Linked DNA regions of Homo sapiens: region 2 is linked to region 1. Evidence: fine-mapped expression QTL. A gene starts in region 1. The other region holds a variant in brackets. All regions are shown on one strand. Distances are between the middles of the regions.

The links. PIP is the estimated chance that this variant, and not a neighbour inherited with it, causes the effect.
Region 2: its variant is fine-mapped to the expression of TRIM61 in whole blood (INTERVAL, PIP above 0.99). The same link has a PIP of 0.9 or more in lung.

The regions. Positions count from the first base shown.
Region 1 is chr4:164,976,158-164,979,070 of GRCh38, reverse strand. TRIM61 (tripartite motif containing 61) reads left to right here and starts at 1,414. Exons shown (of 3, transcript NM_001414904.1): 1 at 1,414-1,540; 2 at 2,246-2,383. RefSeq lists enhancers at 1,136-1,195, 1,226-1,305.
Region 2 is chr4:164,955,775-164,958,687 of GRCh38, reverse strand. FAM218A (family with sequence similarity 218 member A) reads right to left here and starts at 1,740. Exons shown (of 1, transcript NR_160935.1): 1 at 1-1,740. It also overlaps a transcript of TRIM61 not described here. RefSeq lists enhancers at 1,481-1,640, 1,941-1,990. The variant A/G (reference allele first, on the strand shown) is at 1,678.

The DNA.
Region 1 (2,913 bases):
TGTAGTGCCAACCAAATGACCTCTTTCAGTTCCTTTTGTACCAAGTTTTTAAAAATTATCATCTCTAGGCAGGGCGCGGTGGCTCACGCCTGTACTCCTAGCACTTTGGGAGGCCGAGGCGGGCGGATCACGAGGTCAGGAAATCGACACCATCCTGGCTAACACGGTGAAACCCCGTCTCCACTAAAAATACAAAAAATTAGCTGGGCGTGGTGGCAGGCACCTGTAGTCCCAGCTACTCTGGAGGCTGAGGCAGGAGAATGGCGTGAACCCGGGAGGCGGAGCTTGCAGTGAGCCGAGATCACGCAACTGCACTCCAGCCTGGGCCACAGAGCGAGACTCCGTCTCAAAAAAAAAATAAAAATAAAAATAAAATTATCATTTCTGGCTGGGTGAGGTGGCTCACGCCTGTAATCCTGGCACTTTTGGGAGGCCGAGGCGGGCGGATTGCCTGATCTCAGGAGTTCGAATCCAGCCTGGGCAACACGATGAAACCCCGTCTCTACTAAAAATACAACAACAAAAAATTAGCCAGGCGTGGCGGCGTGCGCCTATAGACCCAGCTACTCGGGAGACAGAGGCAGGAGAATTGCTTGAAACTGGGAGGCAGAGGTTGCAGAGAGCCAAGATCGCGCCACTGCACTCCAGCCTGGGCGAAAGAGAGATTCCGTCTCTTATTAAAAGAAAAAAAAATCATTTCTAAAATATTTTGTAGACGCAGGGTCTGGCAATGTTACCTAGGCTTGTCCTGAACTCCTGGCCTCAAGCGATCCTCCCACCTCTGCCTCTGAAAGTGCTTGGATTACAGGTGTGAGCCACTATGCCCGGCCTGTACTAAATTCTTTAAAGTTGAGAGGCTCCACATTGGCTCTTCTTCCAGCCTTGAAGACTTTGACCGTGGAATTGATCCAACGAATGCCTCTTCATCCCTCAAATTCCGCCTGAAATGTCACTTCCTCAGGTAAACCTGAGTTCATAGGGTAGGGCACAATCCCACAGGGTGGGAGAGATCCACCCACTCACCCACTGAGATGCAAACTAATCCAAAGGGGCTTCTATTCCTCTTTCAAGCATAGGGAGTGCTCAACGACTCCACCCTGCGACCCCAGGCTACGGGAAGCAGTTGACCCTGCAAAGCTCTCCACTCCCTCACCATCTGGGAGGGGACGCTGTGCTGGTGAAGCTTTTAAAACCAACTTGCAGACTTACTTGGACCCTCAAGTTTACTCATATACATAAAAAGTGATAAGAATCCGAAAAGACAGCCAGGGGAATTAAATGCCAGTTGGGGCCAACGGGGCCCTGATCACGGAAGAGGGCGCCCCCAGCTCTCAATCTTCACACAATCCCTGCACCCAGGGTCACAGAGCATGCGCAGGTCCTTCCCGCCCACTTCCGGGGCAACTGCCAACCACCGCGCAGGCTGAGCCCCAGGCAGGAAGCAGCCCACTTGGTGGGGTTGGGGTATGAGTCCTTCCTCGCGGGGGCTCGGTGGGTCCTGAGTATTCTTTGGCCGGATTTGCTGATCCGTCTGCTCCAGGTGAGCTGGGAAGGCCGCAGGAAAGGCCCAGAAGGGCCTCGCCAGGAGGCTTAACTGGACAGGGGCTTCTTGAACATTCTCTGTGCCTAAACCTCCGGGTCGCTGCCTGCCCACGACTGGATCTCCTTAGTGTCTGGCGTAGCTCTTGTGAAAAATTCAGGATTGTAGAGTTAGAATGGGGGTGTTGAGCCTGTATCAATTAAGCTTTAAATGTTATGATCTGAATTAGGGTTTATGAAGTGGCTATGTTATCTTCAAAGAGTTAATGTACGTGTTTGGGAGTGGGGGTTGGGGAGTTAAGGGAGCGAAGTGGTAGCTGCCAGTTGAGAACCCACCAGCCTACGTCGTCTGCACCCTCGACCTATGTAAGCATCCTGTAATCCTCACAAGGGTCTTACAGGTACGAATTATCATTTCAACTTTGTAGATGAGGCGCTTTAGGTGCAGGCATGTTAAGAATCAGCCAGTATGATGATGGTTGAAACTGAGAGCTTGGAATCTACCACAGGTTTTATTTATTCCTCAAACAAGCTAGAGACGTATTGCCACCAAGAAGCTTGCTGCCTGGTGAGGGGTTTTTACAGTTAGGTAAAGAATTGCAGAGTAGCTGTAAAATCACATAACTGTGATATGTGACATGATGGGAGCTAGGCAAAAAACTTGGACTAGATCTTAATGGATCTTTTTGCTTTGTTTTCCTTAAAGCATAGGTTCACAAAGTACAGTCCGCAGGCCAGCAGCATCATCTGGGAACTTAGGAAAAAACCAGCCCTACTGAGTCAGAAACTGGGGATGTGGCCCAGGCAATCTTTTACCAAGACCTCCAGGTGATTATAATGCAAGGTAAGATTTGAGAATTGCTTCCATAAAGTAATAAAGGACCAGTGGAATGTTTTCAGTTGAAATATGAAAGGATTCTGTTTGTATTTGAAAAGGTCAGTTTAGCTACAGACTTCAGAAATTGGAGGCACCATTGTGTATCTAGGAGAGAGACATAAGTGGTTTAAACTAGGGTGGTGACTGTGCCTACAGAGCTGTTCTGTTCACTTAATGTCCTGATTTTAAATAGTAGAGAAGACTGCTTTGGGTGTATGCTTGGGGAAAGGAGGGCACAATGATACCTGGAGTGAGTCCTCTTGTGTCCTTTATGAAGGGGTGGCCTGCCCCTCCACACCTGTGGGTATTTCTAGTCGGGTGGGACGAGAGACTGAGAAAAGAAATAAGACAGAGACAAAGTATAGAGAAACAACAGTGGGCCCAGGGGACCGGCGCTCAGCATACCAAGGACCTGCACCGGCACCGGCCTCTGAGTTCCCTCAGTTTTTATTGATTATTATTTTCATTATTTCAGCAAAAAGGAATGTAGTAGGAGA
Region 2 (2,913 bases), 20 kb after region 1:
GTGTAATACCATCTTTCATCTTAGAATATCAAAAGTACTTTACAATTTATTCCCATTACATCTCTGAAGAGTAGGCATTTCTAATACTGTTTTATTGATAGTTGCTAAAATAATGAAAGAAAAAAACTTTCTTCTGCTTGTAAGTGGCAGACAATTCAGAATTGAAGAGCTCCTCTCCTAAATAATACAAAATAGCTTTCAAATAATTCATCCTTCATAATCTATTACTGTACAGGTTATAAGAGGTTAGAAATCATACCCAGTGTGAAACACAGCCTAAGTAGTTTCATAAAAATATCACTTGAAGAAAAGATTTCAGACCTGGCATTCAAGTCATAAGATTAAACCTCATCCCCTTCATTGTCCAGAACAAATCCTAACATTACTGGGTCTTACTTTTAATAGAACGATTGCCACTCTATGTAGTGTAATTACTTTGGCAAAGTTATTACATTTCTATAGCTGAAAACTAAAGCATGAATCCTATTGTGATGGCGTCTTTTTCCATCTCCTGGGAAGACAATTCTAACAAACAACTCTATTATATCTATCCAGTTTGATTTTGTCCTCTTTCTCTTCCTCCTGGTAATAACAGCCTTAATCTTTTTTGGATCATGAGTTTTTGTGGTGTCTTTCCAAATCGCACTGTATTCTATCTTTAGAGATACAAGATTATGACTTGCTGTTTCAGAATCTAGAGTCAGATCTATGTAAAATGAATTAAGAATGTTTTGTCGACCATAATGTTGTGGCAGAAGTCTAGAATCATCATCCCTTGTTAAAATGGAAAAGCTCATAAAGTTTTTGTCTTAATACCTGTTATTGATACATACCCTTATATCAGTTACTAATTATTTGAGTGAATAGTTTACTCTGCTATCTCACTTATTAGAGCTTTAAATAAGAAAATATGGTCTGAAAGTTTTGTTTTCATCTAGTGTGCGTATCATATCCTATTCTTTATATTTTCAGGTTTTCAGAACTGCATCTTATTCATTTTCCGAATAAAGCACAAAGTGCTCAAAATCAGAGTTTAATCTCTTCCTCTAATATTCGACTATCTTCGGTAGCATTCATGTATTTTTAGTTAACATAACGATTGGTTTAGTTTTGGCTTATTTAAAGCATTTTACACTTGCTGTTTCAGATGTCAGATGTCCCCTGTGAGCTTCTTCCTTGAGGCAGCCTGCTCTATAGGACAGGTGAGCCCAGCGGGAGCCAGCCCACTGCAGACCCAAACCCTCTAGTCCTTGTCACAAAAAGAGGCTGGGACCTGATGGTGGTTCTCTTCCTGACTTTTCCTGGTGGTCCTTCTGACTTGGAGTGGCCTGGCAATTTCGGTGGCGTGACAGCCGGAATGCTGCCACTAAAATTCCTCTCTGGGCACCATGAGCGGCTGACAGGGCACGCGGAGAAAACGATTCGCTTCTCCCAGGATTGGTGGAGCGACCGCTGTTGGACGAATGTGGTCGTCCCTGGATGTCTGAGCAAAGAGACACTGCCATGGCGGCCGCCGGTCAGCGTATAAGGTCTGTTAGGGAGACCCGAAGCCCTGCACCAGGAACGCAGTTTGGCTCGCCCAGCCCACCCTGCAGGGCTGGCTCTCCAGGCGCTGGGTCCGGGGAGAAGAGGACAGCTGCCCCGCCGCACCGCGCATCCTTCCATCCACTGTGGTAC[A/G]TGGCGCTGCCCCGGTCTCCAACGTCGCGCCACACCTTCACGGTCTCACCCGGAAGTCGAAGCCCAGAGACGGTGCCGGCCGCACCCAATCACTGCTCTGCCGCTCCGACTTCCGCTACGGACTCGCCCAGCCTCCTGGGAGAAACGCTGCAGTGCTTGGGGTGCTGAAGCCCCTTGAGAGCCTTGTGTTCTGTGAGAAAGTTGCATTCTGAAGGAACCTCAGCTGTTTGCTTTGCTCTTCTGCCACCCAACCCTACCTGTGCCAGACTGAGGGCTCTCCCTGCCCCGCCTTAACAGAAGAGAATTCCAGTTGCTGTTTTAATTTATTGAATCTTATTTATAACTGGTTGGAGAAAAATATGGTTATAATTCCCACTGAACAGCTTATTAAAAGTTACAGTAACACTATGATAATTGAGATATTGTCTTTTAGGGAATAAATAATGAAATTATAAGATGAAATATACAGATGAAATTATAAGATGTCTGGGAATTTACTCCATTGGCAGGAGAAGTTGCTGGGGTTATAAAGATTGTTAATTCAAATGATAGAAATTGGTTTCTTTTTATGTGTACGTTCTTCATAATGTTCTCTCTACTATTATGGATGTATGAAATACTCCACAATTTAAAAGCTTCCTTTTATACCCGGCATGGAAGCTCATGCCTGTAATCCCAGCACTTTGGTAGGCTGAGGTGGGCGGATCACATGAGCTCTGGAGTTTGAGACCAGCCAGGCCAACATGGTGAAACCCTGTCTGTACAAAAAATACAAAAATTAGCCGGACATGTTGGCCCGCCCCTGTGGTCCCAGCTACTCCGGAGGCTGAGGTGGGAGAATCGCTTGAACCTGGGGAGTTGAGGTTGCAGTGAGCCAGGATGGCGCCACTGCACCTCAGTCTGGACGACAGAACGAGAGCTTGTCTCAAAAAAATAAATAAACGAAAGATTTATTTCAAAAGGCTAATCATGTTTCAGCGTTATCAATGCCTCGTTCCAGAAAAGCTCATTTCTCTTACTCTTTTCTTTGAGCCGCCTCCCCGTTTTCAGTCCGCCTCAGGGCTCTCAGATTCTGTCTCCTTTGTCTTCCTCCTCACAGTTGTCCCTAATCTTAATCGATTTTCCATCCTCTACCAATTTCCTGTCTACACCCTCTTTAATCTCATAAAACTGCCAAATTAGTTTAAATCGGGATTGAGGAAAGAGCGAGACTAGGCATTGTGCTTCCATCTGGGT